Regions from separate parts of the Homo sapiens genome. Here all the other regions are linked to region 3. The links come from fine-mapping of genetic effects on gene expression. A gene starts in region 3. Each other region holds a variant in brackets. All regions are shown on one strand. Distances are from middle to middle. Region 1 has its middle 39 kb from the start of SEC22B. Region 2 has its middle 82 kb from the start of NBPF8. Region 3 holds the start of SEC22B (SEC22 homolog B, vesicle trafficking protein). Region 4 holds the start of RNVU1-4 (RNA, variant U1 small nuclear 4). Region 5 has its middle 32 kb from the start of NOTCH2.

Region 1 (6,622 bases), 40 kb after region 3:
ACACTTGTAATCCCAGATACTCGGGAGGTTGAGGCAGGAGAATCGCTTGAACTCGGAAGGTGGAGACTATAGTGAGCCGAGATGGTGCCACTGCGTTCCAGCCTGGGTGACAAAGTAAGACTCCGTCTCAAAAATAAATAAATAAATAAATAAATAAATAGAATACATTTAAAGAGTTGGAAAAGGACATGAACAGATACTTTTCAAAAGAAGTCATACAAACAGACAACAAACGTGGAAAAATACTCAACATCACTAATCATTAGAGAAATGCAAATCAAAACCACGGTGAGATACCATCTCACACCAATCAGAATGGCTATTATTAAAAAGTCAGGCCGGGCTCAGTGCCTCACACCTGTAATCCCAGCACTTTGGGAGGCCGAGGAGGATGGATCACCTAAGGTCAGGAGTCTGAGACCAACTTGGCCAACATGGTGGAACCCTGTTTCTGCTAAAAATACAAAAATTAGCCGGGTATGGTGGCACATGCCTGTAATCCCAGCTACTCAGGAGGCTGAGGCAGGAGAATTTCTTGAACCCGGGTGGCAGAGGTTACATTGAGCCAAGATCGCACCATTGCACTCGAGTCTGGGTGATAGAGCAAGACTCTGTCTCAAAAAAAAAACAACAAATAGTCAAAAGCCACAGTTGCTGGCGAGGCTACCAAGAAAAGGGAATGCTTATCTATTGTCGGTGTGAATGTAAATTAGTTCAGCTACTGTGGAAAAGTAGTTTGGTGATTTCTCAAAGAACTTAAAACAAAATTACCATTCAACCCAGCAATCTTCATTACTGAGTATATATCTAAAGGAAAATAAACCATTCTACCAAAAAGACACATGCACTCACATGTTCATCACAGCGCTATTCACAATAGCAAAGACATGGAATCAATCTAGGTGTTCATCAACAGTGGATTGGATTTTTTAAAATAGGGTATATACATAGCATGGTATAATACACAGTCAAAAAAATGAGTGAAATCATATCCTTTGTAGCAACATGGATGGAGCTAGAGGTCATTATCCTGAGTGAATTAAGGCAGAAACAGAAAACCAAATGTGTTAGTAAGATCTCACAAGTGGGAGTTAAGCATTGGGTACTCATGGACATAAAGATGACAACAATAGGTACTGGGGACTACTAGAGGCAGGAAGGAGGAAGGGGGACAAAGCTTGAAATACTTACCTATTGGTCACTATGCTCATTATCTAGGTGAGGGGATCATTCACACCCCAAACCTCAGTGTTATGCCATATACCCATGTAACAAACCTGCACATGTACTCCTGAGTCTAAAATAAAATTTAAAATTATTTTTTAAAATAAATAAATAGGTCGGGCGTGGTGGCTCACGCCTATAATCCCAGCACTTTGGGAGGCTGAGGCGGGTGGATCACTTGAGGTTAGGAGTTCAAGACCAGCCTGACCAACATGGTGAAACCCCATCTCTGAAAAATACAAAATTAACTGGGCGTGGTGGCATGCCCCTGTAATCCCAGCTACTTGGGAAGCTGAGGCAGGAGAATTGCTCGAACCCGGGAGGCAGAGGTTGCAGTGAGCCGAGATCGAGCCATTGCACTCCAGCCTGGGCAACAAGAGTGAAACTCCATCTCAAAAAAAAAAAAATTAAAATTAAAAAATAAATAAATAAACAAAATTAAAAGTTGCCATGTTGAAAAACACTAATCCATCTTGAGATGCAAGGATCTGTACAAATAAGACTATATACATGAACTTCAGGTTACATAAAGGAGCAGTTTCTGTTTGTAGGTGGGGGGAGTAAACTTTTTGTGTTTCTTTCTGGCTCATTGTAGGATCACATTATAATTTTGCTTTGATACAAATTTGGCAACAGGAATCATAATTCTTTTTCCAACTGACTACAGTGCTTGTATACTTTTAACGAATAATCCCTGTGAGTTGTACAAAGCCTTATATATTCAACAAATCAGTGAAGTTTTTATCCTCTTAATATTTACTTTGTAGCTTTGCTTTGAACCACCTCAGCCCCAGTTCTACACAGTTGGCAGTAAAGATATCTGCAAATTCCACTCCCCCATTTCCTTTCTGTTTTGCCCTTGGTTTTTCAACAGTGAGATGATTGTGCCTTCATTTCTGGGTGCATCCCTTCACTTATTCCTTATTTCCCTTCTCCATCCCTTACTCCTTCCTTCTCTTCCCCAGGCCTTCACAACCTCTAGATTTTATTACTAGCAACTTCTTAGGCCAATCCCATAGCATGCTCCTTCATGCATTACATGAACAAATTTTTTGAGGGTGCTGAACCAAACAATCAGGTGTCTTTTTTCAAGAGTGAACAAGAAGCCACTTTTTAAAAACAGTTTTATTGAGATATAATTTGTATTCTATAAAATTCGCATTTAAAGTGTACAATTCAACGGTTTTCAGTATATTTAGCAGTGCACCCGTCACCATAATTAATTTTAGAATATTTTCATCATCTCCAAAAGAAACCTTATATTCATTAGCAGTCACTCATCAATTCTATTCTCCCATACCCCACCCCTTTATTCCCTCTAGTCCTAGACAAACACTAATCTGCTTTCTGTTTCTATGGATTTGCCTATTCTGGACATTTTATATAAATGAGATCATATAATATGTGGTCTTTTGTGACTGGCTTCCTTCACTTAGCAGAATGTTTTTGAGGTTCATCTATATTGTGGCATCTATCTGTACCTCATTCCTTTTTATTGCCAAATAATATTTCATTGTATGGATATTTCACATTTTGTTTATCTGTTCATCAGTTGATGACAAATGGGTTGTTTCTACTTTTTGGTTATTGTGAGTAAAGTTTCTGTGAACATTTGTGCACAAGTTTTTGTATGGAAATATGTTTTCATTGCTTTTGGGTAGATTCCCAAGATAAAAGAATTGCTGGGTCATATGGTAACTCTATTTTTAGCATTTAGAGGGACTGTCAAACTTTTCCAATGTGGCTACACCATTTTACTTTCCCACTAGCAGTGTATGAGCTTTCCAATTTCTCCACATCCTTACCAACAATTATTATTTTCTGCCTATATTATTATAGCCATTCTAGTGGGTGAAAATTGATATCTCATTGTGCTTTTGATTTATATTTTCCTAGTGACTTTTCATGTGCTTATTTGCATATTTTTCTCTTGAAAAATATCTTGTAATCCTTTGCCCATTCCCAACTTAGATCACTTGTCATTTCTTATTGATTTGTGTTTTTTATATTCTAGTCCCTTAACAGATAGTATAATTTGCAAATATGCTCTCTGATTCTGTGGGGCTGTTCTTTCACTTGTTGGTGTCCTTTGAAGCACAGAAGTTTTTTT[A/TA]TTTTGATTAAGTTCAACTTATCAACTTTTTTCTCTTTTATTATTTGTGCTCTTGATGTTGCATCAAAGAAATTACTGCCTAACTCAAAGTCACAAAGATTTACTGCTTAACTCAGGTCAAAAGAGTTAGTTTTCTTCTAAAAGTTTTATATTTTAGCTTCTACATTTAGGCCTATGATTCACTTTGAGTTAATTATTGTGTACAATCTTAGGGGTCCAAATTAATTCTTTTGCATGTGGATATCCAGTTGCCCAGCACCACTTGTTGAAAAGACCATTTTTTTTCCCCCATTGAATTGTCTTGGCTCTTTCGTTGAAAATCAATTGATTGTAACTGTTAGGGTTTATTTGTGATTCTCAATTCTGTTCCATTGATCTGTATGTTTATCCTTCTGTCAGTAACACACTGTCTTTGTTACTGTAGTTTTGTTGTAAGTTTTGAAATTGGGAAGTGTGAATCCACCAACTTTGTTCTTCATTGTTTTGGCTTTTATGAGTCCCATGCATTTCCATATACATTTTAAGAGCAGCAGAAATTGACAAGTTGATTCTAAAATTCATTAAAAACCCTCACTTCTAAGAAACAATTAAAATATTTTCTTTCCAACCTAGGATGAAATTGGATAAGGAGGACTGAGCAGGTACATTTTTGAGTTGTGGTGATGGGGGATGGGTCATTTGAAAGGGGGACCAACCTGATGGAGGAGGGGAATAAAGGAGCCACAAAGTTTGGTAAACTTCCCACCCTGGTGAGAGGAATGTTTGTTCAGAGGAGGCAGTTTGTTCTAACACCAGGGAATATTATGAAAGATAATTGAAATTGTAAAGTCCATTGATATCTCCGCAGAAGACAAAAAGGTCTCTAAGTAAGCAGTATTGTTAGCTTGTTGATTCTTACAGAAGAAGATTTTCATCCAACTAAGGGAAGCAGCTGGGACTTTCTCAGGGCTGTAAGACAGAAAAAAAATGAAGAAATTCCTCTGTATCTTTTCTTACCTCTCCCTGTGGCCGGCCCTAACTTTTGTCCATTTTTGTTACCCTTCCCTTTTATAAGCTCCCCAAAAAGAGAGAGAGGAGAAAGAGAAAAAGAAGAAAACCATAGTGGGAGAGAGGGTTAGAGATCCTGGGGATGGGGGAGGAATTCTGGAGCATTTCAAATTAAAGATCCCTAAGGTACTATGGGTGGAACCTACTAAGTAATATGACAACTTGTAGCAAGAGTCATAAGGATGATCACATCTTCAACTCAGTGATCCAATTCCTGGGAATTTATGTAAGGAAATAAGACAGGCAAAAAGTGTGAGTGGGAATGTTAATGAAAATATTACCTATAATAGTGCAAACAGGAACAACCTAAATCACCAAAATAGAAGCATGTTTTATGACATCATGGCATGTAAAGATGGCAGATTATAATACTAGCTTCACTGTCAAAATATACTCTGAATTGCATCACTTTTCACTGCATTCTGTATTACTCTGGATCAAGTCACTATTATTCCTCATCTGAATTATTGCAATGGCCTCCCAACTGGCATTTCTGCTTTCACCCTTGTTCCCCACCCCCAGTCTACTCTCAACACAGCACTCTTAGCAGTCCTTTAAAAACTTAAATGTAAAATTCATATGGAATCATAAAAGGGCCTAAATAGCCAAAGCAATCCTAAGCAAAAAGAACAAATCTGGAGGCATCACATTACCCAACTTCAAATTATACTACAAGGTTATAGTAATCGAAACAGCATGGTACTGATATAAAAGTAGATGCATAGACCAGTGGAACAGACTAGAGAACCTGGAAGTAAAGCTAGATACTTAGAACCAACTGATCTTCAACAAAGCATACAAAAACATAAATTGGGAAAAGGACACCCTATTTAGTAAATGGTTCTGTGAAAACTGGAGAGCCACTGGATAGAAGAATGAAACTGGATCCATCTCTCTCACCACATACAAAAATCACCCTAAGATGGAATAAAGACTTAAATATAAGACTTGAAACCATAACAATTCTAGAAGAAAACATAGGAAAAATTCTTCTGGACTTTGGCCTAGGCAAAAAATTATGACTAAGACCCCAAAAGCAAATGCAACAAAAATTTAAACAAATAAACGGAACCTGATTAAACTGAAAGGCTTTTGTGCGGCAAAATATATAATCATCAGAGTAAAGAGAAAACCCACAGAATGGGAGAAGATATTTGCAAGTATCCATCTAAGAAAGGACTAATATCCAGGATCTACAAGGAGCTCAAACAAATCAGCAGGAAAAAAAAAACAAATAATTCCATTAAAAAGTGGGCAATTTACATGAATAGATGCTTCTCAAAAGAAGATACACAAATGGCCAATAAACATGGAAAAAATTTCAACATCACTGAACATCAGGGAAATGCAAATCAAAGCCACAATGAGATACCACTTTACCCCAACCAGAATGGCCATTGTTAAAAATCCAAAAAGCAATAGATGTTGTCACAGATGTGGTGAAAAGGGAACACTTATACACTGCTAGTGGGAATGTAAATTAATATAACATCTATGGAAAACAGTATGACGATTTCTCAAAGAACTAAAAGTAGCAATCCCACTGTTGGGTATCTACCCAAAGGAAAATAAGTCATTATATCAAAAAGGAAAATAAATCATTATATCTGCACATGTATGTTTATCGCAGCACAATTGACAATGGCAAAGGTATAGAACTAACCTAAGAGCCCATCAACCAATTAGTGGATAAAGAAAATGTGGTATATACATGCCATGGAATACTACTCAGCCACAAAAAAGAATGAAATAATGTCTTGCACAACTTGGATGGAGCTGGAGGCCATTATTTTAAGTGAAATAACTCAGGAATGGAAAACCAAATGCCATATGTTCTCACTTATAAGTGGGAGTTAAGTTATGGGTACACAAAGGCTTACAAAGTGGTATAATGGACATTTGAGATTCAGACAGGGGAAGGTTGGGAGGAAGGTGAGGGATAAAAAACTGCATATTGGGTACAATGTATACTACTAGGGTGACAGGGGTACTAAAATATCAGACTTCACCACTATACAGTTCATCCATGTAACCAAACACCACTTATACCCTTAAAGTTATTGAAATAAAAATGTATTTAAAATTTAAAAAAGAAAACCTAAATGTGTCATCCACTACTCAAAAGTTTCCATGGCTCCTTCTCATTTAGTATAAAAGCCAATGTCTTTGATTAGTCCTGGGCCCTACCTCATCTGGCCTCCATCTGTGACTTCATCTGATATTTTTCTTCCTGTAACTCCA
Region 2 (6,622 bases), 320 kb before region 3:
AATCCTGAGCTCGATTAAAAATATCAGTGGTAGAAATATAGGTTGAGGGTAGAAATATAGGACAGGCAGCCATTCATGGACATGAGGGTTTGGGGTTTGGTAGAAACATGTTCACACAAGTAAGGTGTAGGACAAAGGTTGCTAGAAATGCCAGCTCAAACTGGAACTACAGTAGTGTAAGTGTGATGTTCGCCTGTGGAGACCATGTCTAAAATATTGTTAGATTAAGGGGCACCATCTTTGAAAAGGGCGTTGACACACTAGGGAACATAATGAAGACAGGGCGCACAATGGTGTGGACCAGAAATCTCCAACTAGTCAAAGAAACTAAAGAAATGTAGGCTTTCAAAAGATCTTGAGGACATGAGAACTGGCTTCGGATATTTGAAGAAGTGTCAGGTGAAAAAGAACTCATGTATTTTATGTCCCTCCAGAAGGCTAAACAAAGAGTGAAGGGCAGTGGAAGTTAGATTCGAATTATCATAAATCCTGATTTAGTTTCCTGATTTTCTAAAGAGAAGGTGAACTGGAACCTGAAGAAATAGAAGGGGCTCACCAGGCTGGGAGAATAATTTAAGTACACAGTCATGGTGAGTGTTGGGTCAGTGGGACCAGCCTGACCACAGGAGAAGCTTGAGGTTGGAGTGAGAAGTCAGGATGGTGGAGCAGAGTCACCAAATCTTGAAAGCTCACAGGTCAGGGTAAAAGTTGACATTCTGTATAGTAGATAATGAAACTAAGTCTGTTCTTTTTCAAAGAAGATAAGCATATGATGAAAACAGAACTTTAGGATGCTAAGTCTTAGGGGATGTCCTGGAATTGGGAGACATTAGAATCTGGGAAACGTATTGGATGGGTCTAGTGATATTCTGGCACATTAAGAGATGACAGTCTAATATAAGGTGCTATTGGGAAGATGAAAGGGTATAGATAGATTTTAAAACATCTCTTAAAAAATAAGCAAAATTTAGTGAGAAGTTGGGTTGAGAGAGAGAGGAACATCATAAAACTTTGGGCAAAATTCAAGAGTAGATTATTTACCAAAGTCCCTAAAATTGGTTCATCCTGAGCTCCCTTTCCTTTCATGCTTTTCTCCCTGCCTTTTAGGACTCATTTCAAAGCTACAACCACTAAAGCTCCATAATCTCTTATCTGTAATTTCAAAATCCAGTAAGATTTCCAAATTAAATTTTTCAAATACTCATTTAGTGACAAAATCTAGATGATCTGACATGAGGATATTCATAAGTCTTTATTTATCTATTTAGAATATTCACATAGCTCATTGCGGAAATAGTTATATGTTTGATAAAGGATTGTGGCTCACATGCAACTGGGTACATGTTATATATGATATATGCACCCTGTTGCCTTGCTAAAAACTAAAACAAATTTTACCTTTCGAAATACATTTGGCCTTAAGGTTTTCAGATAAGGGATTGTAGCCTCGTAGAATATTTCTTAGATCTCTTCATCCCCAGTACAAAGAAATAGCCATGTGGTGAATGGAGGTAAATATACATACATATATATATTTATATATATGTGTATGTATATATATGTGTGTACATGTCATATATATGTACATGTATATGTGTGTACATATATATGTACATGTATATGTGTGTACATACATATGTACATGTATATGTGTGTACATACATATGTACATGTATATGTGTGTACATACATATGTACATGTATATGTGTGTACATACATATGTACATGTATATGTGTGTACATACATATGTACATGTATATGTGTGTACATACATATGTACATGTATATGTGTGTACATACATATGTACATGTATATGTGTGTACATACATATGTACATGTATATGTGTGTACATACATATGTACATGTATATGTGTGTACATACATATGTACATGTATATGTGTGTACATACATATGTACATGTATATGTGTGTACATACATATGTACATGTATATGTGTGTACATACATATGTACATGTATATGTGTGTACATATATATGTACATGTATATGTGTGTACATATATATGTACATGTATATGTGTGTACATATATATGTACATGTATATGTGTGTACATATATATGTACATGTATATGTGTGTACATATATATGTACATGTATATGTGTGTACATATATATGTACATGTATATGTGTGTACATATATATGTACATGTATATGTGTGTACATATATATGTACATGTATATGTGTACATGTATATGTGTACATATATACACCTATATATAGTATGTATATAAACACACATATATAAACACACTATATGTAGGTGTATATATATGTACACACACACACACATATATAGAGAGAGAGAGAAAGAGAGAGAGAGAAATTGAAAAACTCAGTTATAATCCCTCGTCTAAGGTGCCCAACTCACATTCTCACATGCTACCAAAAGACCTCCTCCTTCTCTTTCATTTTTGAGAGTGAGGACTATGAAATCTCTTTCTTCCTCATCCCCTACCCTTCTCTAGCTCAGTGCTGACCTTCTACCTTGGAGTATCCTATACTTTAGCCTACAGGACTAAGGTTACTATGGAGATGAAATATGGACTTATCTTCATCTGCCAATCAAATGCTCTATAGGTGCATGTGTGTAACTTAAGCCGCAGGGAAGTTTCAGACTGGATGTGTGCCAGCTCAGTGCCATCCCCAGGCCACACACAGAAATGGTGACACCTCCATCACAGATGGGTTGCATGAGACTCAGATGATAGTGGGGTCCTTGGCAGAAAAGAATGTCACAGAGGAGGGTTCTGACAAGTGCTTGGAAATACTTGGGTGAATGTTACCAGACTCCTTCTCTCTCAGCTTACAGCCTGGATGCCTGTCACCAAATCCCTTTGAGCAGTGACCTGAGCCACCTGGTGGCAGAGGTACGAGCTCTGAGAGGGCAGCTGGAGCAGAGCATTCAGGGGAACAATTGTCTGCGACTGCAGCTGCAACAGCAGCTGGAGAGCGGTGCTGGCAAAGCCAGCCTCAGCCCCTCCTCCATTAACCAGAACTTCCCAGCCAGCACTGACCCTGGAAACAAGCAGCTGCTCCTCCAAGGTAGGAAGGAAAAGGGACTTAGAAAGCCCTTGGCCAGTGGGGAGATCACCAGGAAGTTCTGCGGCAGAAGGTGTAATCTGCCTGGTCCATGCTCCTTAGGGTCAGGTTGAAATCAGAGATGCTCTAGTCTAGCAGCCTGAGTGAAAGCGTGGGATTTAGGTCAGACTGGGCTCCAGATTCTGAGTTTACCACTTAGAGGTCGTTTGATTTGGGCAAGGTGTCTAAAGTCTCAGAGGTTTAAGCTTTAGTTTCCTTATATTTAAGATGAGGATAATGATCATATGTACCTTATATGATTTTGAGCATTAAATGAAATCATTTACAAGTGCTTGGCACACTAAGAATTACTCAATAATTAGCAGCTGTATATGTTCATATCTTTTTCTTGGATTTGCTTGGTGCTTTAGTTTTAGCCAAGTGTTTTCACATATATAATTTCATCTGAAGTAAAGCAGGTTTTGCTATCTCTGTATTTCACATAAGAAAACTTAGGTCCTGAGATATTAACAGACAAGCAGGGGTTTAGAGAAGTTATAGACAAAGCCAGAATCAGAACCAGATGTTGTGATTTTCAGTCTGTGTTCCTTCCAGTTCATTGTGCCCTGTCTCAGTATTGC[C/T]GACCTTCCCAGATTCTCTAGTCCCCCTTTCCCTCACAGGTGGGGAACTCAGTGTGTGGTAAAATGTTCCTGCCCCTAAGGAAACAGGGCTCTGGGGAAGTCCTGGATGGTGGGTGATTTATTTCGGGTGGCCATCATTCGCTTTCTCTACCCCACCCCTTGCCTGCCTTTTCAGATAGGCGTGTTTGACCAGGTCCCCCTTCTCTTCTCAATATCCTCTATCAATCTCACTTCTCCCAGTTTTCATTGAAATGTCAATGGTGTCCCCCTAGTCTCTTAAATCATTCAATTTCTACTTCCTCTGTCCTTTTCTCCTTTTGATACACCGTTTAGTACACCATCTCCACTCACCTCCATGGCCATACCTTCAATTTTATTCAAATCAGGAACCACTTCTGTTCAGTTTCTCTAAAGCTGAGCTTTCAAACTCTCCTGCCAGCTATTTCTGGGTCATGTTAATCTTTGTTTTTCTGTGGTTCTTGTAGATTCTCATTTATCTGACAGTAACCTTATTTGTCAAATGAAGGTGACAATAACATGATTATGCTGTTTTGGCAATTCAATAAAAAAACACATGTGGTCCACCAAGCAAACCGCCTGACCACCAGGAACTGCTCAGCTTACATTAGTTGGACATCTTGCCCTCCTCTGGGCTGCCCTGATGGTTGTGGTGTTCAGTTATGTCTCCAACTCTTCCTTCTAACCAGGCCTTCTTCTCTCACTGGCTTCCCATACAGCAGCCAAGACTCAGCCCCACTGATGCAGTCCCTGCCCCTCTTTCTCTAGCACCCCGGAGGCCTGAGCTGGAAAGCAGGCACTGGGCCACACTTGCCTGAGCAGGACCTTTTCTACCTTCTTTGTGATATTTTCCAATTCCTCCACCATAGGGTTGCTTTTTAGTCTCCAGCAAGACAATGTTAACCCACCAAGCCTTCTGTCTCCGTTCTTCTCATACAAGTCAATTTTTTTCAGTATTACCTCATCAGAATGATGACTAGAATGTTGAGTCCCCCATGAATCCATTCATTCCTTGATTCTTTGATTCTAGATTTTAATCTGTACTATGTATATTTATACATATTACATTTAGTTACAGGGCATCATATTAGATACCACACACAAATTATACTTAAGACTCGGTTTATAAAAATACACCTAATAATTTTTCAAACTAGAAGTTACGTTCTCATGGAACACCCCTCAATTACAGGAATATCTTTTTGTTCTGAAGAATGGAAACATTCTGAACTCAGTGACTCATAGGCTTTTGCTTTTGCTTTGGCTTGTGGGGTATGGATAATTCTGTAAGAGGAGAGTCCTGCCACCTTAGGTCTCAGTGGGGACAGCTAGGTGTGCATGTGCTTCATGTGCAGTGTGTTCCAGGGCTCCTGAAAACTGTGGTTGCCTTTACCCCCTAGATTCAGCTGTGTCCCCTCCAGTCCGGGATGTTGGTATGAATTCCCCAGCTCTGGTCTTCCCCAGCTCTGCTTCCTCTACTCCTGGCTCAGAAACGCCCATAATCAACAGAGCAAATGGTAAATATGGCAACTAAAGGGCCCAGGGACTGATGATGGAAAGTGATTAATGCAAACAACCTTTTGTTGTCTCTAAACATATTATCTGTATTTAGAGAGTTTTCTCTGCATGCCCCAAGGCCTTTAGCCCTACTCCCTGCACCTTCTGTGGCTGCCTTTCTTGCCATTGTTCATCTTCCTGTAGTTTTCCTACTGCTGTTTTTGCTTCATTGCACCATAATCTCTCTATTCTTGAAAATGCTGTCTGTATCCAGCTTGACTTCCTTGTCTGTGTCTTCTCTACTCAGAAACTTATTATTTATTATGATTCATCCTATTTCATTTGCCAATAAGGAAAAAATTGTCTCCTGGCAAATTTATCATTAAGAGATAATGTAAGAAAGATTATAAAAATATAGAAGCCAGAAGATCTCTATGGACTTTGCCCCACCCTTGTACATTCCCAGGCTTCCTTTCTTGTTCCCGGCCTCGTCCTTTTCTTGTTCCCTACCTCTTTTTTAGTTGGAGCAAACTGAGGATATCATTATGAATAACAGAAGATTCAGTTGTGTTGTCATTTTCTTTTTCAGGCTTGGGTTTGGATACTTCTCCAGTAATGAAGACCCCTCCCAAGCTAGAGGGTGATGCTACTGATGGCTCCTTTGCCAATAAGCATGGCCGCCATGTCATTGGCCACATTGATGACTACAGTGCCCTAAGACAGCAGATTGCGGAGGGCAAGCTGCTGGTCAAAAAGATAGTGTCTCTTGTGAGATCAGCGTGCAGCTTCCCTGGCCTTGAAGCCCAAGGCACAGAGGTAATCACACCTGAAGCTTTAGGTGCACTCTTTCCCTGTGCCCTTTCTTCCTTTGATGTTAACTCCTTCTCCCACCATTTTTGTTTTTTTCATGCTTTGCATCTCTCAACAGCTGAGACTTCCTCTTCCATGTATAGCAGCCAGGCCCTTTCTTCTCTATCTCCTATTTTCACTGTGAGTTCTGCTCTGTTCCAGATGTAGCTGACTGGATATTTCCCCTCAGCCCCACAGAAACATGTGGCATTGCCTAGCAGCCTTTGGTAGCTTATTATCTACCATAGTCATGCAGGCACATGACCATCTGTGGGCAGAGTCAACTCAATGGGATGGATAGAAACTGAAGGATTTGCAGGTGTATGGCCCCCACATGTGGAAGGGGTGAGAAGCCTGGCAGCCATGTCATTTCCTTGTGCAGACTGCATAGAGGGAGGGAAGGCAGTCAGCAAAGCTTCTGAGAGCACCTTGCCAGTGAGAGAGACCAGGAACCTGTGGCTGTGCTGTCTGAGCTGCTGGAGACCCATGGATGTGTAGGGACAGCCCTGCCTCCACGGAGCCCCCACACTAGAGGGCAAGACACACACCCAAGTAGATAAGCACAGTAA
Region 3 (6,622 bases):
TGGATGCACTGTGCGGAGGACACAGCTAAGGGCTGTGAAAATTCAAGAATAAAGAAAAGTCCTGCCTTCACGCAGCTCGCACTGTGAGGAGGTTTAATCAGGGATGGTAATTCAAAATAACTCGTGTTTAATCACCAGTGCAGATGGTGTCAGTAAACCTGCCTGGGGCGCTGCTTCCCAACCCCCGCCAGGGCCTGCGCCCTGCAGCCCACCGGAGGCGTGGCCGGAGGGCAGGCGCCAGGGCGGAAGGCGGGGGTCGTTCTAATTCCCTGGGGGTAGCTAATGGCCATGCCTGGAGGCGAAGCTTTTCAAAATGACTAACTTGGAAAACCGCCAAAGACAATGGAATCTGGCAGAACTGTGGGGAGCAGGAATCTTAAGCGTTTGCATGTTGTTGGGGTAGCAGGGGCTCAAGAAGGGGATGCTCAGGGCAATAGCTTTTTTACTAATCTGTAAGAAAATGTTCCAGTATTTTAATAGCTGGTACAGCCATACTGATGCATACAGTCCAGATCGATAGATATTGGTCCAGATACAGTGGCTATCTGTTCTTTTGCCTTCCAGGAGCACAGTTTCTCAGAAGAAATGTTTTTTCCATGTATATAATCATGTAATTCAAACAGGAGCTGCAGTTTACTTGCAGACCTCCTAAGTGACAGTGTTTGGTCTGGGGGTAGATACGGGCCACAAGTTGCTGGGACTATTCTTTATTCGTCCTCATTACTTAGCTTAGTGTCTGGTATAGAATTAGGCACTCGATAGAATTGTTTAAGAATGAATGGACACAAACCTTTAACTATTGCTTCGTTTGATCTCACTTGTAAAATTTCTGCAACTGTGTGACTGCTGTAATGGAAAGTCTTATCCTGTTTAGGCAGCTTAATATAAGTTGGTTTAGATATGTGCATTTCACGATTTCTTTGATAAGTTTCAAGAATTTGCTGGCAGCTGTAACTATGACGTTCAAGGCTTATGTTTACTTTTTTTTTTTTTCCTAGTACAACATTTACAAACTCCAAGAATTTTATCCATTTCAGAGGTGGTTGTCAGATTTAGGGCAAAGGACATATGTGGGCTTTATAAATTTTAAAGTTCGGTACAAATGTTTGTTGATACTCTTGTTTAATTAAATGTAAAATAGTTGAGAACCTTCCATGTACTTACTGATCACAGTGTTAACCATTATTACACAGTACTGTATTGCTCCAAGAATCAAAGGGCAGCAGCTCAAAGACAACACTTGGATGTGAATGAGATGAAGCTGATCAAGTCAGAAGGAAAAGGAATTCAGATGCCAGAGCTCCCAAGGTCTGAATAGTGGGCAGTTTCAAGACAACTCTAGTTTTCTCCTGATGGCTGAAATTATTAGCAGCCTAAGATCACTATCCTTTTCCTGGAATCAATGTGTTCGAAGGGTGCCAGAGTCATCTAGTGTGTTTACAAAGGATAAAAGTAAGAGGTGTGAGTATGAATGTTGTTGTTCCAAGAAATAATTGCTCCAGGGTGACTCCATGCTTTTATTAGTTTGCGTGTGTGTGTGTGTGTGTGTGTGTGTGTGTGTTTTGGTTTTTAAGTAACAAACTAACTCAAAGTAGCCTAAGCAGGATAAAGAGGGAATTTGTTATAAAGAAGCAATAGTGTTTGATAGAACCCAATGGCAGGAATGTGTATGGGCCTTGGGAGGAGCCTAGAGTCAGGAACTGAAAAAAGATGTGGATTCTTGCTCCGAATTTGCTTCTCGGCACACACCTGCATTCTTCTCTCTCTGCTTCTCTAATCAACATGGCAGTCTGTATCCTTAGTTAAAATATTTGTAGCATTAATTCCCCATTACTCAAATGACCATCATTTGAGGCTGTGGAGAAGGCATGTCCTTGTTGAGTGGAAGGAAGGGAAATTAGAACAACTTATATCTATGGGCTATTTTAAATGTAAGGTACTATGATTCTACCAACTTAGACTCCCATATACACAAGGATTCACTTCCATTCCACTTTCTGTCTCTGTTAATAGCACAATTTTTTTTGTCTTATTTATTGTAGTCCTTCATCTTTCATGTGGAGTCAATCACTAGGTCTTATTGGGTTTTGGTCTCAAAAGTCTATCATTAAATAATATTACTTTTCTTAGCAGCATAATTCACAATTGCAAAGATGTGGAACCAACCTAAGTGCCTGTCAACTAATGAGTGGATAAAGAAAATGTGATACACACACACACACACACACACACACACACCATGGAATACTACCCAGCCATAAAAAGGAGTGAAATAATGTCTTTTGCAGTAACTTGGATGGAGCTGGAGGCCATTATTCTAAGTGAAGTAACTCAGGAGTGGAAAACCAAAAACCGTATGTTCTCACTTAAGTGTGAGCTAAGCTATGAGTACACAAAGGTATACAGAGTGATATAATGGACTTTAGAGACTTAGAAGGCGGAGGGTGGGAAGGGACCTAGGGTTAAAAAACTACTTATTAAGTAAAATGTACGCAACTCAGGTGATGGGTGCACTAAAATCTCAGCTTTCACCACTATATAATTCATCTATGTAACAAAAACCCACTTGTAACCCAAAAGCTATTGAAATAAGAATCTTTTTAATAAAGAAAATGCCACACAAAAATAATATTGGTTTTCTTCTAATCCTGAAGGCCAATATAAAAGGTAACAAAAGCCTGAGCTCTTTAATTAATGGGTACAAGTTAAGACAGAATCACATCAGGATTTGAAGTTGAACCTGAGCTCAAATCCTGTTCCCATCACTGCTAGCTCTCTGAGGCTTTCCTCTCAACTACAAAGTGGAGATATAATACTAAACAAGCTTACTGGGTTGCTTAACTAATATCTAGAACATACTTAACAGTGTTTCTATTAATGCGAGAACTAACTGTAAGCACTTAGTAAAGAGTAGTCATTATTAAGCAATGATAAATAAAAGCATTTGTATAATTCTTTTTTTAGCTTTTGAAAGCCTTGCACCTAGATTTTCTCATCTAATATTCATTAAAACCCTGAAAGGCCGATCATATCCCCACTTTAGAGATGGGGACACCAAAAAACAAAGAGATGGGAACACCTAGATATATCAGAGATCCTAGTTTTTATTTTATTTATTTATTTATTTATTTTTTTTTTTTGAGACAGAGTGTCGCTCTGTTGCCCAAGCTGGAGTACAGTGACGCAACCTCGGTTCACTGCAAGCTCCGCCTCCCGGGTTCACGCCATTCTGCCTCAGCCTCCCGAGTGAGTAGCTGGGACCACAGGCGTCCGCCACCGCGCCCGGCTAATTTTTTTGTGTTTTTTTAGTAGAGACGGGGTTTCACCATGTTAGCCAGGATGGTCTCGATCTCCTGACCTCGTGATCCGCCCGCCTCGGCCTCCCATAGTGCTTGGATTACAGGCGTGAGCCACCGCGCCCGGCCTGATCCTAGCTTTTTGTAGGTGACTGACCTAGGTGGTACAAGATGTCCTGTACTTGTTCATTTATTCACACATACAACACATATTTATTGACTTCTTACCATAAACTGTTTAAGGAGCCTGGTGGGGATACCGCATAAACAAACAAGCAAAAATAGACAAAAATCTTTGTCTAGAAATATATAAATATAGAACATTTTATAGAATATATGACATAGAAAACAGAAAAAAATAAATATGAAAATAGCCTAATTTTCAGGGTTTTCCTTTTTTTACATACCCTTCATGGTTAACGGTTAGTGGTTAATGGGGATTACCCATTAACTCCCACCCTCCTTCCCAGCTCTCTCCCAAGACTTAGTTTCAGGAACTAGAAAATTCTGATTCAGCTTGGGTGCAATGGCCGCTCAAAGGGCGAGGCTTATTCGAAGCCTCAAATTCAGAAAACCCAGCCAGACCTTGGAAGTTAAGAAGGTGGAAGGCAGATCGCGGAACCAGTGTTCTGATAGTTGTGGTTCTCTGAGGGAAGCCAATTCTGGGGACCGGTAGTGGAAAGCTCTTGCGCTGTTTCCGGCCACCTCAGCGGGAAGCGGAGACGCAAGCAGCTGGATCTCCGGTAACTGAGACATAGGGTATAACTGTTGTCGCGGCGGAGGAAGTGAGGACGGCGCCAAGGGCCTTCCGGGCCAGTGTTGGATCCCTGTAGTTTGTGAAGATGGTGTTGCTAACAATGATCGCCCGAGTGGCGGACGGGCTCCCGCTGGCCGCCTCGATGCAGGAGGACGAACAGGTGAGCTGCTTACTCACGACCCGCGACCCCAAGTCTCTGTCAGCGCGCTTTGCCCTCAGCATCGGATTCCTTCCTAGGACCGGGAGACCTTTGTGACTTCCCGGGCACTCCCGACCTCTCTGAAGTGCGCTTTTATCTTTTGGTGTAGGAGAGACTACCGGCGAAGAGGAAATCTTTCCTGAAGGAGGAGTTAAGTTTTTTGTGTTAGCTGTTTCTCTTTAGAAAAACGCTCTGGAGAAGTGGTAGCTTTGGTTGATTGTGATCACCCAGTGTTCTTTGACTCTTTAGGGACTTTGTTAAAATTCAGGATTTCTAATTTTCTGCTGCTAATAGGACTGCTGATGGATAAATCCTGGGAAAAAATCAGCCAAGTTCTTCAAGTCTATAACGTGGCACCTGATCCTTGACCTAGCTTGCTGACATCTTTTGAAAGTGGGTGAGGTAATATTGCCACATAAAAGCACCTGTTAAATTTCAGTACATCACATTCTTTCAGGATTATCCCCAGTTCCCACCTTCTCCAATACGCCGTACCACATTCCTGCAATACATTGTAACTTATTTTTTTCTTTGTCTTTCAATAACTTGAGTTTCCTAGCGGGCAAACGACGGGTCTTAATCATCTCTTTGTTATCCATACCTTTTACAATAGCTGCTTTATGCTAGTAGGTGCTCAAAAGTATACTGAATTGATTAAAAACAGCACTAACTCCAGATGTCTTAAAAGAAAGATGTTTTGTGTTTTAGAAACACAGTGGAAATTTCTGAAGTAAGACAAGTTTCTGGAGCAAGCTTGGGAGGTTCTGAAGACAAAGCTGAGAATGGAATTTATATAATTTGTTTAAAGTGATCAATTTTATTTTACTTTTCCATACAGTCTAAGTAAAACCTTGAGCCTTAAAAAAAGATGAGATATTGAAAAAATAGTTTGCACATTTCTTCTGTTGGACTTTTCATTCATATATTAATGCAAAAAATTTTTACTGAGCACATCAAATGTGCCAGGCATAGTGTTAATGCAGGGAGTTAGAGTACACAGTCTCTACCTTTGTGGAGCTTACAGTCTAGTGGAAAAATCAGATAACCAACAAACTATTAAAATGTAGTTTAACTGCTAAGGAGAAGGAAGAGGGTTTTGTGCTTGAACATGGAAAATATATCTAAGTTGGTTTTAGGAAATCAGGAAAGTCTTCCCAGAAGGTATGACACTAAGGTAACAGTAGGATCCAGTAGTAAGGAACTATTATTCTATTTGGTTATATGCCTTTTTAGGTTTGATTTGGAAATATAGTTACTTTCACTTTTAGGAGAGTGGTGATACAGATAATAAAGTTGCAGGTCATGCTAAGTGAAATATATTCTATTCATTACATAAAAACAAAGTCTAATCTTTGAAATAAACCGTGAACAATTTAACATACCCCGATTTGCTAATGTGAAATGTTTTTCAGGAATACTCTAGGACCATCCTGCAGAAGGAGTGTAATTGTTCAAATGAACCTAGGAATATGATTTGAACAAAGTAGATAGTGCAGGGGAATATCCTTGAAGGATGTGTAGTTTGACTAAAAAATAGTTTTCCTACAGTGGGTGGCTGTGTGTTGGGGGTAGGGGGGATGGAATCTGGTCAATTTTTAAATTATTGCATTGAATTCCAGTGTTAGCAAAGAATACAAAGTGAACTTGAAAGTCTACTTAATATTAGTGGCCCCTACTCTCTGCCATGATACTTTATTGAAAAATTAATTGATTTATTGTTTTTTAATTATAAATTTGGTATTGGTTTCATATTGGTTTATCAAGATGGGATGCTTTGTTTAATTGACAAGGAAAGAAATTTTACACACAAATATTTTTGTGATTGTAGTGCCATAGTATTTTCCTTTAGGAATTTTGACTTTGAATAATAAAGTTTGCCTAAACTTTTAATGTCTGTAAAGATCTGAATCTTAGGCTTACTTTTACTATTTTAATAGTATACAGAACATTTATAAAAGCGCCTACTACATACCAAACACTGTGCTAAGCCTATTAAGTTCATTTTTTTATTTAATCCTCATACTACCATATTAGAACAGGTACTATTAAAATCTCCAATAATAGATAAGGAAGCTCTGAGGCTTAGAGAGGATAGATCACTTGCCTAAATTCACAGCTAATGAGTGGCATAATGAAATTTTTCATCAGGGTTTTTCCCCTTGGCACTGTTGACATTTGGGGATGGATAATTATTTGTTCTTGGGGACTGTTCTGTATATTGTGTAGGAGGTCCAGCAATATTCCTGGCCTCTACCCTCTAGATGCCAGTAGTACCACTACCCTTCCCCACTTTGTTTGTTTGTATGACGACAAAAATATTTCTAGACATTGCTAAATGTCTCATGGGGGCAAAATCACCCCAATTGAGAC
Region 4 (6,622 bases), 770 kb before region 3:
GGGTGGATCACAAGGTCAGGAGTTCCAGACCAGCCTGGCCAATATGGTGAAACCCAGTCTCTACTAAAAATACAAAAATTAGCTGGGTGTGGTGGCAGGTGCCTGTAGTCTCAGCTACTCGGAAGGTTGAGGCAGGAGAATTGCTTGAACCCAGGAGGCAGAGGTTGCAGTGAGCTGAGATTGTGCCACTGCACTCCAGCCTGGTGACAGAGCAAGACTCCATCACAAAAAAATAAAAAATAAAATCATTAACCGTCACTATTAGTAGCTGGGATGTTTGATCATATTATGGTTTGAACAGTGTTCTTTTTATGTTCAAATATGATTGTGAAATAGTATTTCTTTCAGTTTAGTGAGAGGGTAACTTTGTCTGATATTGGTGTTGTGAAATTTTTCGTTTTAACCATAGAACACCATGGCCTAGGTGTTTGTCAGACCAGCTCTAGCTCAGAGCAGAAAAGGCTTACCTTTTTCTTTCTCAGAAATGACTATGGAAAACAGTAAACAACAAGGGCCGGGAGCCATGGCTCAGGCCTGTAATCCCAGCACTTTGCAAAGCCAAGGGAGGCGGATCACTTGAGGTCAGGAGTTTGAAACTGTAGCAGGAGTCATAGACAAAATCCCTCAGACACCCGATTGTGGAATGTAAGAGCTTTTTTCAGCTGGGACCATCGGTAGACTCACATCCTAGAAACCGAGCTCCCCAAATAAGTAATTCTTGTCCCTTTTAAGGGCCCACAACTCTAAAGGGGCTGTGTTGGGGGGGTCATGATCAACTGAGCAAGCAAGGGGTACGTGACTGGGGGCTGCATGTACTGGTAATCAGAATGAAACAGGACAGAAAAGGGAATTTCATAATGCTTTTTTATACAATGTCTGGAATTTATAGACAGCACAATCGGTGAGGTCAGCGGTTGAATTTTAACAACCAGGCCCGAAATGTGGCACCCAGTTGTCTGAGCGTGATTTTCACTTCTGCCCATTCTTTCAACCTCCACTTTTTCAGCAAACAAGAAATTAAGTGTAAGACAATATGAGGAGTGGTCGCTCTCAAAACCAGCTTGGCCAACATGGTGAAACCCCATCTCTACTAAAAATAAAAAAATTAGCCGGACATGGTGGCAGGCACCTGTAGTCCCAGCTACTGGGGAGGCTGAGGCAGGAGAATCGCTTGAACCTGGGAGGTGGAGATTGAAAGTGAGCCAAGATCCCACCACCGCACTCCAGCCTGGGCGACAGAGCGAGGCGAGACTCTGTCACACACAAAAAAAGCAGTGCCTTCAAAAATCTCAGAGAGAAATTATTTCCACCTATCTTTTTGTATCTCTATCTAGTAAAATATCAATTAATTTTATGGGTATAAAAGACATTTTCAGACATGCAGTGTCTCAAAAAGTTTATTTCTAAGGTAACCACTTTATAGGAGGTTTTGGAGGATATGCATCATCAAAAGGAAGAAGTGAGTGAGGAATGAACCCCCTTGAGATCCATGAAGCAGGGGATCTAACAAGAGAGAGGCGATGGAAATCCCAAGATGGTGCAGTAAAGAGAGATATTATGATAACAGCTGTGGGATAAGCCTGAAGAGCAAGTCATCCAGAATGGAACATATAGAAATGTGCCAGGAAAAATTTCTTTCTTTCTTTCTTTTTTATTTTTTATTTATTTTTATTTTTTGAGAAGGAGTCTCGTTCTTTTGCCCAGGCTGGAGTGCAATGGCGTGATCTCGGCTCACTGCAACCTCTGCCTCCCGGGTTCAAGTGATTCTCCTGCCTCAGCTTCCCAAGTAGCTGGGAGTACAGGCGCCCGCCACCATGCCTGACTAATTTTTATATTTTTATTAAAGACGGAGTTTCACCACGCTGGCCAGGCTGGTCTCGAACTCCTGACCTCAGGTGATCCACCTGCCTGGGCCTCTCAAAGTGCTGGGATTACAGGCGTGAGCCACCGTGCCCGGCTGCTCTTTTTTATAGACGAAGAAATTGAGGTACAGAAAATCCAGTAACGTTTTAAAAGTCACGTCATGAATGAACCAAGATTTCAACCCAGAAATTGAGGCTTCACTACAAGTGAAGACTGGGGTTTTCTTGTTTTCAATTATTGGGAGTTTTGGATTTCCAGGAATGTGCAATTGTAAAAACCCAGCTTCAAGAGGTGATGAAATAGGTGCAGTGGCTCTGGCGTAAGCTCTGAAGCCCCAGGCTCAGGCTCTATTGAAAAATTACTTTTGCTGAAATATTCCTGTTTTTAGGAACTTCCATGGAACTTGAGCCTTCACGCAGCATATTTTGGCATCTGATTCAAAGCTAATAGAGGTCCGGAGGATTCCCAGGATTAAAGTCTTTAAACAGAAACTGTGAATCTTGCCTAAGCAAAAGGTGCCATCCCTGGATGGGCTTGCACCACCAACCTTTCAGTTAACAGTCAAACGCGCTAACCGATTGCGCCACAGAGACTCTAATGGCTTGTGTCTTAAACTCATTTGCTGATACCAGAAATGGCTTTTTAACCTCTGGCTGCAGATAATCTCATATATTTGATGCCTGTCCAATCCCGCGCACTCCAGAAACCCAGAATACGGGAGACAATGAAGCCAAGAGTCGAGTCTTTGGGCACTTTGGACGTTCTACCCGGGCAGAGTCAGCTGGGGGACTCCAACGGCCAAAGGGCCACCTGCTCCTCACCGTCTGCTCTTCACTGCTTCCCCCGCCTGCTCTTCACCCTCTCAAAAGTCGCTGGCCCCTCTACAGGTGACAACTGCAGCTTCTCCGGCGAAAGCCACTCGCTTTCCCATTCTTAGCCCCGCTCACACCTTGCGCTCACAGTCATTTCCGCCAGGCCTGGGCCAGCGGACGCGCGCGTGGGAAGGACCAGAACCCGTGGTGTCCTCACTGCGTCCCCCTCGGGCCCTCAGAGGTGGGATCCACAGGAAAGGGACCTGGAGTTTGCACAGGCTGCAGCCCTTCGCCCAGAGCCACCCTAGCACCTAGTAGGTGCCCAATAAATGCTCAGTGAAGGAAGGCATTCCACCGCAGGGTTTTAGGAGAACCATGAATTCCTGGATGAACATTAAGCGTTTAGTCCTACTAGGAAGTCTGGAATATAGAGACTTGAACTGTTTCTCAAAGGCAGCTGTTCTTGTATCCCCAGAGCCGGTTTAGAATCCAGCAAAGGCCCCTGCCCGGTGTATCCCACCTCTGGAGACCCGAGGATAGTGCGGTGGGGAGCACCGCGGGTTCTGGTCTTTCCCACGCTCACGTCCACTGGCCCAGGCCCAAAGGAAATGGCTGTGAGAGCAAGATGTGAAGATAGTTACAAATACCAGCTAGGGCCAGTGACAGTTGCAGAAATGAG[G/A]ACTTGTAATAGTTAGGAGTATTTCTTCATTATTTTGAGATGAATACATTTGGTTATATATTAACCAATACTTTTCTTGAGAATTCTCATCTTCCATCATCCTCGCTATCATATTCATTAATAGTTAACTTTTAGAAATCTCAATATTTAGGTTACAGGATAGCAAATATGGAATGTGATCTAGCTAAAAAAGGAGTGAACATCATTCAAAGACAAATAAAAGACTTTATCCTGTTGGGGAAAGGGTTGGCATATTTTCACTGAATGAGAAAAAGTATGATTTTCCTATTGTCTTTATTTGAACCTTAAGTATGGCTTTACAAGGAGGAAAAAGGAGGAAGAAGAAGAGAAAGAAGAGGATGAGGAAGAGGAGGAAAAGAGAAGGAGGAGGAGGAAGGTGCACATTGATGCCACTTTGAGAAGAAGTGGACTGTGGTGGATTTGTAATGTATCAGTTTTGCCAAGCTGAATGCACATTTCCCAGATTTGCCATCTTTAGATAGCTCTAGGTTAGCCTGGGCAACAGGAGACACTTGGAAGATAGAATTCAAGTGGCTGTTACACGCTTTTGTATACTGGGAAGGGCGTTGTTACAGCTCAGGCATGATCTTCATCTTCCCTGACCCTTGGACTGGTGGGTGTTTTGCTTCTTGATCTAACATTAAGGTTAGAAGTTGCAGGATCCCAGCTGGGTTTTGTTACATCCAATCTGGTTTAAGTTCCCATATTATTAGGAAAGCTTTAGGGTGCTTCAGGAAAACGCTTTTCAAAAAATCAGATTTGGAAAATATCAAATGGAATTACAGGCAATAAGCATAACCCAGTGGAAACATGAATCAAACCCTCTAGAGCAGGGTTGTCTAAATTTTGGGTTCCTTGGGCCACACTGGGAAAAAAAAAAAAAGACATTTGTCTTGGGCCCAGCATAATATACACTAACTGCAACTGAACCGTGCGTGTAAAGCTTGTAAACAAAATCTGTCTGTAAAGTCTGTAAACAGGCCAGGCGCGGTGGCTCAGGCCTGTAATCCCAACATTTTGGGTGGCCGAGGCGGGCGGATAACTTGAGGTCAGGAGTTTAAGACCAGCCTGGCCAACATGGTAAAACCCTGTCTCTACCAAAAATTCAAAAAATTAGCCGGGCCTAATTTTTTAGTGGCCTGCGCTTGTAATCTCAGTTACTTAGGAGATCGAGTATTCTCTGGCTGAGGCAGGAGAATAGCTTGAAGGCAGGAGGCAGAGGTTGCAGTAAGCCGGGATCCCGCCATGCACTCCAGTGGACTGTTTGCTGTTAATAAATGTTTACAATGGGCTCCCGTAGGGAAAAGAAAAGCTTAGTTTTATTTCTATAGAACAAAAAAAAAAGTTAAGAGATTAGTAGAGACGGGTCCACCATATTTGACCACACTGACATCAAACTCCAGAGCTCGAGCGGTATTAACATAAAGTTATCAATGCATCTCACAGACTACTGAGATTACAAGCGTGAGAACCAACCACTACCTGGCAAAATCTTTACTTTGAAAGTAAGTTACAGATGGGAACAAAGACCTGTTTATTAGTTTATACTAACGCCTTGTATATGCTTCCACAGCAAACAAAATCCACTTTTAAAACGACAACAACCCAGGGAAAAACACAGACACAGTTCCCCACTGCCACAAATTATGTAATCAAGATTCCCACATTCGGGGAAATCACAGGGGTCAGCACATCCACAGTAAAACTGCTAAGCCTTGCTCTGGAAAAACCACCTTCGTGATCATAACATTTCTTCTGCCAGATAAACATAAGTATAAGCTCACGCCCCTCCGCCCCGCCGCAGCCTCATATGCCTCACCCTTTACACGCAAGGTCACTTGCGTCACGCGCATCCAGGAGCCATCCTAGCCCTAACACACAGCTGCGACTCTCCGGTCCGACCAGAGGTCCCAGACTTACTCCCACGGCACGGGAACTCTTTCGTGGCGAAGCAGCAGGTGGCGAAGCAGCAGCCCCTGCGCTGCCTCATCTACATAGAAATCGCCCTCTCCGTGATGTCACCGACAACGCCTTCTGGATCCCCGTCTGCTCTTCCGCCTCACCCAACGCCCCTCAGCGGAGCAACCAGCTGTCGGAGCCGGCGGGAGAAGTGACTTATGCCTGTCCCTTCTTTCTCTCCTGTCCCCGCCCCTCGTCTCCCGCAATGAAGCGAGTATTTAATCTGTGTCCTGTGGAAGTCCCATTTGGCGGCCAGCTGGAAGCCCGTGCACCCTTCTTCAAATAATGGCTTTCAATGAGCAGACTAGAACGTTTAGGATTACAAAGGAAACCGATTCCTTTCAAACTTGGTTATCTTTGTGATGTGGCACTGTGTGCATATCTTCGTTAAAACGCATTGAAGGCCACTGCACTCCACCCTGGGCGACAGGAGGTGACTGTGTCTCGAAAAAACCAAAAACACTCCCCCCTCACCCCAAAGCATTAGACGTCAAGGCTGGCAGGGATGTCTGTTCTCTTGAAAGTTCAATATCAAAATACTTGGAAATTAAACTAAAATAGTAGAAGCAAGAACAAAAATTAAGTTGAAGATAATATCAAGAATATTTCCCACAAACCAAAATAAGAATGTAAAAACAGGAGAGAAAAGTTCAGGAAGATAGACGTCCAAGGTCCATATGATTAGCATGCGTATCAGAAAGAGGATAGAAAAAAATCAGTACAATAATTCAAAACACTTTCCATACCAATGGATTGAAACTACAGTGAATTTAAAGTATTGAATTGATATTGAACTTTCAAGAGAACAGACTTCCCTGCCAGCCTTGATGTCTAATGCTTTGGGGTGAGGGGGGAGTGTTTTTGGTTTTTTTGAGACACAGTCACCTCTTGTCGCCCAGGGTGGAGTGCAGTGGCCTTCAATGCGTTTTAACGAAGATATGCACACAGTGCCACATCACAAAGATAACCAGGTTTGAAAGGAATCGGTTTCCTTTGCAATCCTAAATGTTCTAGTCTGCTCATTGAAAGCCATTATTTGAAGGAGGGTGCACGGGCTTCCAGCTGGCTGCCAAAGGGGACCTCCACAGGACACAGATTAAGTACCCGCTTCATTGCGGGAGATGAGGGGCGGGGACAGGAGGGAAAGAAGAGAGAGGCATAAGTCACTTCCCCGCTGGCTCTGGCAGAGGTTTGGTCCCCTGAGTGCTCCTTTCTTGTAAGCAGTTCTTGTTTCATATTTTCACTATCTCTGACACTATTAACTGTACAATTTTTTTTCTTCTGTACA
Region 5 (6,622 bases), 76 kb after region 3:
CAGGATACCCAGTTAAATTTGAACTTCAGATAACAAATACATATTTGGTATAAGTATATGCCACACAATATTTGGGATAGATATATATTAAGACATTATTCATCATTTATTTGAAATTCAAATTTAATTGGTGTTCTGAATTTTATCTGGCCTCCCTGTGGCCACCACAACACCCATAACTTGAGACTCGGTAGGAATTCATAGGCCTTGAAATCCACTGGGGCCCTATCTCTCCCAAGAAGGCAGTGGAGAACTTTGTGAGGAAGAAAAGCAGATGACTGGGCCCTCTGCTAGGATTACTGGGATCCTAATACTGTCTGGTTCCCTCTCTCCTGGGCCAGCTCAGAAGGACCATAAAATTAGATCTTCTGAGTGCCTAGCACCTTGTCTGCCTTCCATCGTTGCATTTGGATGACAGAGAGTTTGCAGAGAACACAATGCCTCTTGACCTATGGCAGCAGCATGATCAGTATCCTGCAGGACTTTCAAGGGGATGCTTTTTGCTCTTCTTGGAAAATGTCCTAATATATCCTGAAACATCCACATGCAACCTGACTAGCTATGCTTCATACAATACTCTGGCCCCAACAGTTCTGAGTTACCTGAAACATCAGCACCTTCAAAACAGCACAGAAATGTGTGACATTTCTGAACCAAGTTCAGTGTAGCCAGTTATCTGTGATTCTGGAGTGAGAGACACCCTGGTCACTGAGGTTACCTAGACATTTTCAAGAGATGTCTAACACCATTTTGTCTTTTTCTGTGCAACTGCCCTAGTAATGACCTCCTAAAATAGAGAAGGAAGTTTCCTGATGTGCTGAGGTTGACACTATGTTTGGCAAGTCAAGACTCGCTGCACCTCTGCTCCAGTACAGCACAAGCAAGCACTGACGATGTGCCAGGCACTGCTGAAAGGGCTTGCCTATATTAACTAATTTAATACTCATGATAACCCTATGAGCTATATGCTATTATTATTGCTGTTTTGCGGATGAGGAAACTGAAACATGGAGTGATAAAGTAACTCCTATAAAGCCATACAGGTAAAAAATTTACTAAGAATAGAAATGAATGCAAGCAACTCAGCTCCACAGTGTGTCCTCTGCACCTGCATGCCAGCTCTACACAGCTGGAACCTAGCTTCATTCAGCATCACACTGTTGAGACTGGTGCTGCCAACACTGTGGAGTGGGCCACCCTGACCCAGGAGAAGCTTTATGCCACACTTCATTATCCCTGCGTGGAAAGGGGAAGGGCCTGTGGTCAAGCATGTTTTCAAGCCCTAGAGGGTCCAATGTGTGATAGGGACTTCAGTCTGCCATAGCCTGAAAGCTCAGCTCATGCTATGCAAGGCAGCTCACCTTATCTGTGCTTGGGTGCTCCATCAGCTGTGTGCCCAGCACTCAGAATCACAGACCAGATTCTCTATCCTGAAAGCCTGAGTACAAGAGGTAACAGAGAGACTCACTCTGGAAGACTATGGCTTGAGTATTTCACAATCATTCTGCTCAAATGATGTATTTTAGACATTTATGCATGGTCTTAATCCTGATACAGGGCCTCTTGGGGCAATATGGATTGATGTTAAATGCCACGAAGGTCTTTATAGGAGTAAGGCAGTGCTCATCCCTGCTAGGAAGGCCAGAATGCAGCCTCAGCACAGCCACTGGCCCTCTCTGAGGTGATATGGTCTGGTACACTACCACAAAAGCACCTGGACCCAAAGCAAAGATACCTCAGGGTTCCTCTAGAGCCGCGGTGACTCCTTCTGATCCACACTCGCATCTGAAACTCCAGTTTTGGGACTTCTATTTGTTGTCTGCCCGCTTCCTGGATTGATTGATTGATTGATTGTTATAGAGACAGGGTCTTGCTATGTTGCCCAGGCTGAACTCAAACTCATGGGCTCAGGTTATCCTCCCACCTCAGCCGCCCAAGTCATTGGGAGGTCTGCCCCTCTTGACCTCTTCCCTGACTCTGCCCTCTTCCCTCCCTGCATTGCTCCTCCACCCATTCCAGTCATTTATACCCTGATAGGTAAAAGAGGGCTTCTACTTTCATGGTCTCTCAAAGCACTGCTTTCCAACCACAGCCCTCAGCTATGCCTCAGTTTGGGCCTATCAGGTCTACATCCACATACCCACCACCCCTAGACAGGTGACAAAAGTAGTGCTTAAGAAATAAATGTGCTTTTTTGCCTCCCCCACACAACTGACTGCTCTGGCTAATATCACTGCTACACACTTTGCTTTCACTAATTATTATTGCCTGCCCTCCAGAACTGTTTTTTTTGCATACAACGGTTTTTGTCCTTAGTGTTTTTTTTACACCTCTTCTTGGTTTTATTATTATTGTTTTTTATTTTTTTATTTTTTGAGACGGAGTCTCGCACTTTGGCCCAGGCTGGAGTGCAGTGGCGCGATCTCTTGACTCACTGCAAGCTCCGCCTCCCGGGTTCACGCCATTCTCCTGCCTCAGCCTCCCGAGTAGCTGGGACTACAGGCGCCCGCCACCATGGCTGGCTAATTTTTTGTATTTTTAGTAGAGACGGGGTTTCACTGTGTTAGCCAGGATGGTCTCGATCTCCTGACCTCATGATCCGCCCGCCTCGGCCTCCCAAAGTGCTGGGATTACAGGCGTGAGCCACCGTGCCTGGCCCTCTTCTTGGTATTATTGATATTCCTGCAGCTAGACAGTACCCGGGAAGGAATGCACCAACTAGAAGGAGCTTTAATGAGCCTACTATGTTATGGCTGGCATCAGCCTTCAGAGAGGTTTGACATAGGATGCCATCTAATTCCCCGCCAGCCCATTCATTCTATCCAACTAATGGGAAAACTAGAGGATTGCTGATAATAATAGCATCAGCAAAAATAGTTACCATTTATCAAGCATTTACTATGGGCCAAGTACTATGCTAAATGCTCTGCATATATTTTCTCACTTAATTCTCAAAAAATGCAATGAGGAGAATGCTATTTTATCTCTAGCTCACAGCTGAGAAAACTGACCTGCCAAAAAAGCCGCTTAATGAATAAGTGATAGAGCAAAATTTTGAATGCAAGTTAATTTAAAGCCTGGGCATTCAGCCACTCTGCTGCCATTATCATACATCATCTGACTTCCTTCATGTCCCATCTCCCAACTTCTGTTTTTTATTTTCTCTTTTCCTGATTCTCCAGTTACCCACCCTAGCAGTGGAGGTGATATATATGAACTGCATGCCAAAGTGGGTGTAGACTCATAATGACAACATAATGACACCAACTGGACCATGGGAAATGGTGAAGGCAAGAGTAGTTATTTTAACTTGGCCCTTTGAAACAGAGACCCTGCCGCAAGTTATGAGGGGTTTAAGTATTTTCCTGTTTCATTTGCCCTTAGATCCCAAACACCTAGAACTGTGCCTAGCTCATAGTAGGAGCCCAAGAAATACCAGCATGGAAACCTGGAAAGCTGGGGTAAATCTGATGAAGAGCACAGGAGCCTTAGTAAATCCGGGTGATCTGAAACTGGCTCTTAGTTGAGCCAGATGATAGGATCTTAATGACAATTGTGCACCACTTCTCATTTCTTGCGACTCTTTGCAGGTTTGCTTCTTGCTGTCTTATTCCAACTAAAAAATTCTGTTTACTTTTCATGTATTTTCTCTACCTCAGAATTGCTGCTTATTCATAAATTCTGCCTTCTTATCACATGGTTCTGCTTCCTCATAGTTTTGGTTTGCTATAATCCTCCATGGCTCCACTCCATTGTATGCCATCCTTTCAGCTTCAGCTCCCATGGCTAACTGCTTCTTTCTATCCATGTTTCCCAATTCAAATCCCAGAAGGAGAGAATCTGATTGATCAAACTTACCTTTTCCATTCAAGCCCTGGTTTTTGGGAAGGCAGCCCCTAATGTCAAGGGCCAATCATTGGTCCAATCAGGAGCCATCCCTGGGCAAAGAACAACCTACCTCTGCTTCTCAAAGCAGGGGGCTGTGGGTGGGGCACTTTCATCTCAAAGAGGAAGTTGGGTGTGGCAGG[C/T]ACTGTGTTGACATATCCAGTATAGGAGTGCCCTGGGAGCCCATCTCTCATTTCTGAAAGAGATAGCATTGTAGATCTGGACGTTTCATCACATATTCCCAGGAAGGCCCAGCCAAATGCAGCTGGTAAGTTGCTGAATGTGGAATTCCTCTTGGCCTTCCAACTCCTTGCACTCTTCCTTCTGGGACTACTTTGGTTTTTCAGTTTATTACCTGTTTGGAGTTGGCTTGTTTCTGGACTCTCTCTTCTGCTCAGGTGAGCAGACTTCTAACTGGAATACCTGGCTCTTGGACAAGGTGAGTGTTTGGATCCAACTTTGGTTCTGCACCATTCTTTCAACTTGGATGACATTGCCTCACCTCTTGTATCCTTGTCCTCTCCCTTCTACTCAATCCACTCTGCTCTGGGTTATTATTTACCTGAGGGTGCCTTCCCTTCCCAGACCCACCAACATACTCCTGAGGGAAGAACATTCAAAAGCAGCTGGTGGCTTCAGTGAGATCAATTTTTAGAGGAATGATCGGGGCAGAAGCTAGATAGAAGCAAGTTGAGGAAGTGGAAATAGTGAGTGCAAGACACTTTTCTGAGAAGTTTAGATGAAAAGGAGGGGAAGAAAACAGCTATGTGTCAAGAGTTTGGTGTGTGTGTGTGTGTTTTATTTTTTTTGAAAGAATTTGCTTCTTATTATATAACACATGATTTTGTAAAACATTTTGAAAAAAACAAAAATTATAAACAATATGTTTACAATTGCCCATTAAACTACTACGTAAGTAATTACAATAGTTACCAATTTTTGAATACCTACTAAACAGAAGAATTATGCTAGGAACTTCATGAATTATTTTTCTATTTCTTGTGCAATACAATGTCCCAGATGGGTCAGAATTCAGACAGATATGGCTGTGATGCAGAATTAGACAACGTCTCTTCCCTTTAAGCAATGATTGGCATCCATTGATTTATAAGGAGGCTGAGAAGTTTGCTGGGGGCAAAATGGAAATATTTGCCTCAGTAGGGTCTTCAGCATTCATGGGCATGTCTGGAGACAGTTCCAGAGGTAGGCAGAGTGCTGGCAGGAATGGTGGGGCCCCTGGAGAGAGCACCGTTGGTTGAGGAAGGAGTTTGTAATGGTAAGACTGGGCTTTAGACCTGGAAGGTCATGGTAAGTCTGACTGTCACAGGGAAGGGCCTAACCCAGCTTCCTTGCATGTGTCTTCCCAGAAGAAAACAAAGAAGGGCCTCTGAGTCATGGAAAGAGCCATGAAACTCTTTAATGCTCTAGGGCCTATCGCCCAGTAACTGGTAACTCAGTGTTATATTAAGGAAGAGAGCTTTTCTTTTCCCACTTTGAAAGAGGATGCTGACAGACATCACAGGGGCTATCATAGCCCTCAATTTCCCATAAAACCGGCACCACAGTGCCAGCTGTGATTGCAGAAAAAGGTTTTTATCCAAGTTGTGTTAAGGAAATAGTAGTTGATTTCAGTTAATTCAGTCATAACACTTTACCTTGAGCATTAATGCTGAAAAAGTCAACTCTCTTACTTCCTGTTTTTCAAAAGCATTATTGGCTAGGGTAACTGTGCAGGGCTCCACGCTGACACCGTTTGTGGACTTTTAGCTCACAGTGGTGCTGTCAGTGCCAGCATCTTGGTGTCTGGCTAACTATAACAATACACATGATGACAACACTGGCTTAAGAACACAGGTAAGATCTGTCCACCAATGACACCCAAATGTCTTTGTACAAAAACACCTACTCGATGAGGCCCTCCCTGACCACCTTATGTAAAACCGAGCAACCCCTCTGCCTTCCTACCCTCTGCCTACCCCGACTTTCTTTCCATAGCACTTATCATCATCTCATGTTTTGTCATTTTTGTTTCTTTTTCTTCTTTTTTAATCATCGTTTTTCCTATCCCAAAAAGCAAATGCCAAGAAAGCAGTGTCCAGGTCTGTCTGTTTATTGTTGTGTCCCCAGAGCCCACATCAGTGACTCACACAGAGTGCTCAATATTTATTGAGTTAATCCATTTCATGAATTTCTCATAAATATTTGGGGAAGGATAAGAACTATTAAGATTTTTAATTAACATGATCACATTTGGATTTATAGCTCAGGAGAACCAAGGATATTTGCTTACATTTATACCACCCTTACAAGGTCCATACTCTAATATGGCCACTTTACAGGTGAGGAAACTGAGGATCAGAGTGAAAGCAACCTGCCTCAGCCCCCATAGATAATAACGATCAGAGCCAATATAAACTGGTGTAGTAAGTAAGAAGACAAAGTAGGTAGTATTGCTATAGGTAAAGCAAGAGCTAAGGAAAGCCTTAGTTGATATGGCAGAAATAGGAACAGAGAGAAAGGGACAGAGAAGGAAGAAACTGTGAAGCCTGATTAGAAATATGGAAGGCAGAATTCAATATACTCCTAGAAGCAGCCCATGAAAATAAAATGAAGAAAGAAGGATTTTTTTTCTAAGAGGAGGGTGGCTTCAATTTCTTTCAGAAAAGATTGGCTAACTGAAAACTAAGAAAGAAACAAACCAAATCCTTGTAGCTTCTAGCACATCTATGATAAAATT

Evidence for each region. PIP is the estimated chance that this variant, and not a neighbour inherited with it, causes the effect.
Region 1: its variant is fine-mapped to the expression of SEC22B in whole blood (Lepik 2017, PIP 0.95).
Region 2: its variant is fine-mapped to the expression of SEC22B in whole blood (TOPMed, PIP above 0.99).
Region 4: its variant is fine-mapped to the expression of SEC22B in whole blood (TOPMed, PIP above 0.99).
Region 5: its variant is fine-mapped to the expression of SEC22B in whole blood (INTERVAL, PIP above 0.99).

Annotation. Positions count from the first base shown.
Region 1 is chr1:120,133,718-120,140,339 of GRCh38, reverse strand. No RefSeq gene overlaps it. Among named protein-coding and RNA genes, the nearest start is that of SEC22B, 39 kb to the left of the region's middle. The variant A/TA (reference allele first, on the strand shown) is at 3,335.
Region 2 is chr1:120,493,632-120,500,253 of GRCh38, reverse strand. It overlaps the pseudogene PDE4DIPP2. Among named protein-coding and RNA genes, the nearest start is that of NBPF8, 82 kb to the right of the region's middle. The variant C/T (reference allele first, on the strand shown) is at 3,690.
Region 3 is chr1:120,173,898-120,180,519 of GRCh38, reverse strand. It overlaps SEC22B (SEC22 homolog B, vesicle trafficking protein), which reads left to right and starts at 4,000. Exons shown (of 5, transcript NM_004892.6): 1 at 4,000-4,213. The coding sequence starts at 4,139. RefSeq lists enhancers at 3,839-3,968, 3,747-4,312, 4,009-4,378, 4,313-4,878.
Region 4 is chr1:120,941,123-120,947,744 of GRCh38, reverse strand. All of the region lies in intron 2 of LINC00623 (long intergenic non-protein coding RNA 623), which reads right to left. It overlaps RNVU1-4 (RNA, variant U1 small nuclear 4), which reads right to left and starts at 5,145; the gene lies at 4,982-5,145. RefSeq lists enhancers at 4,514-5,217, 5,149-5,458, 5,207-5,921. The variant G/A (reference allele first, on the strand shown) is at 3,355.
Region 5 is chr1:120,098,185-120,104,806 of GRCh38, reverse strand. No RefSeq gene overlaps it. Among named protein-coding and RNA genes, the nearest start is that of NOTCH2, 32 kb to the right of the region's middle. The variant C/T (reference allele first, on the strand shown) is at 4,029.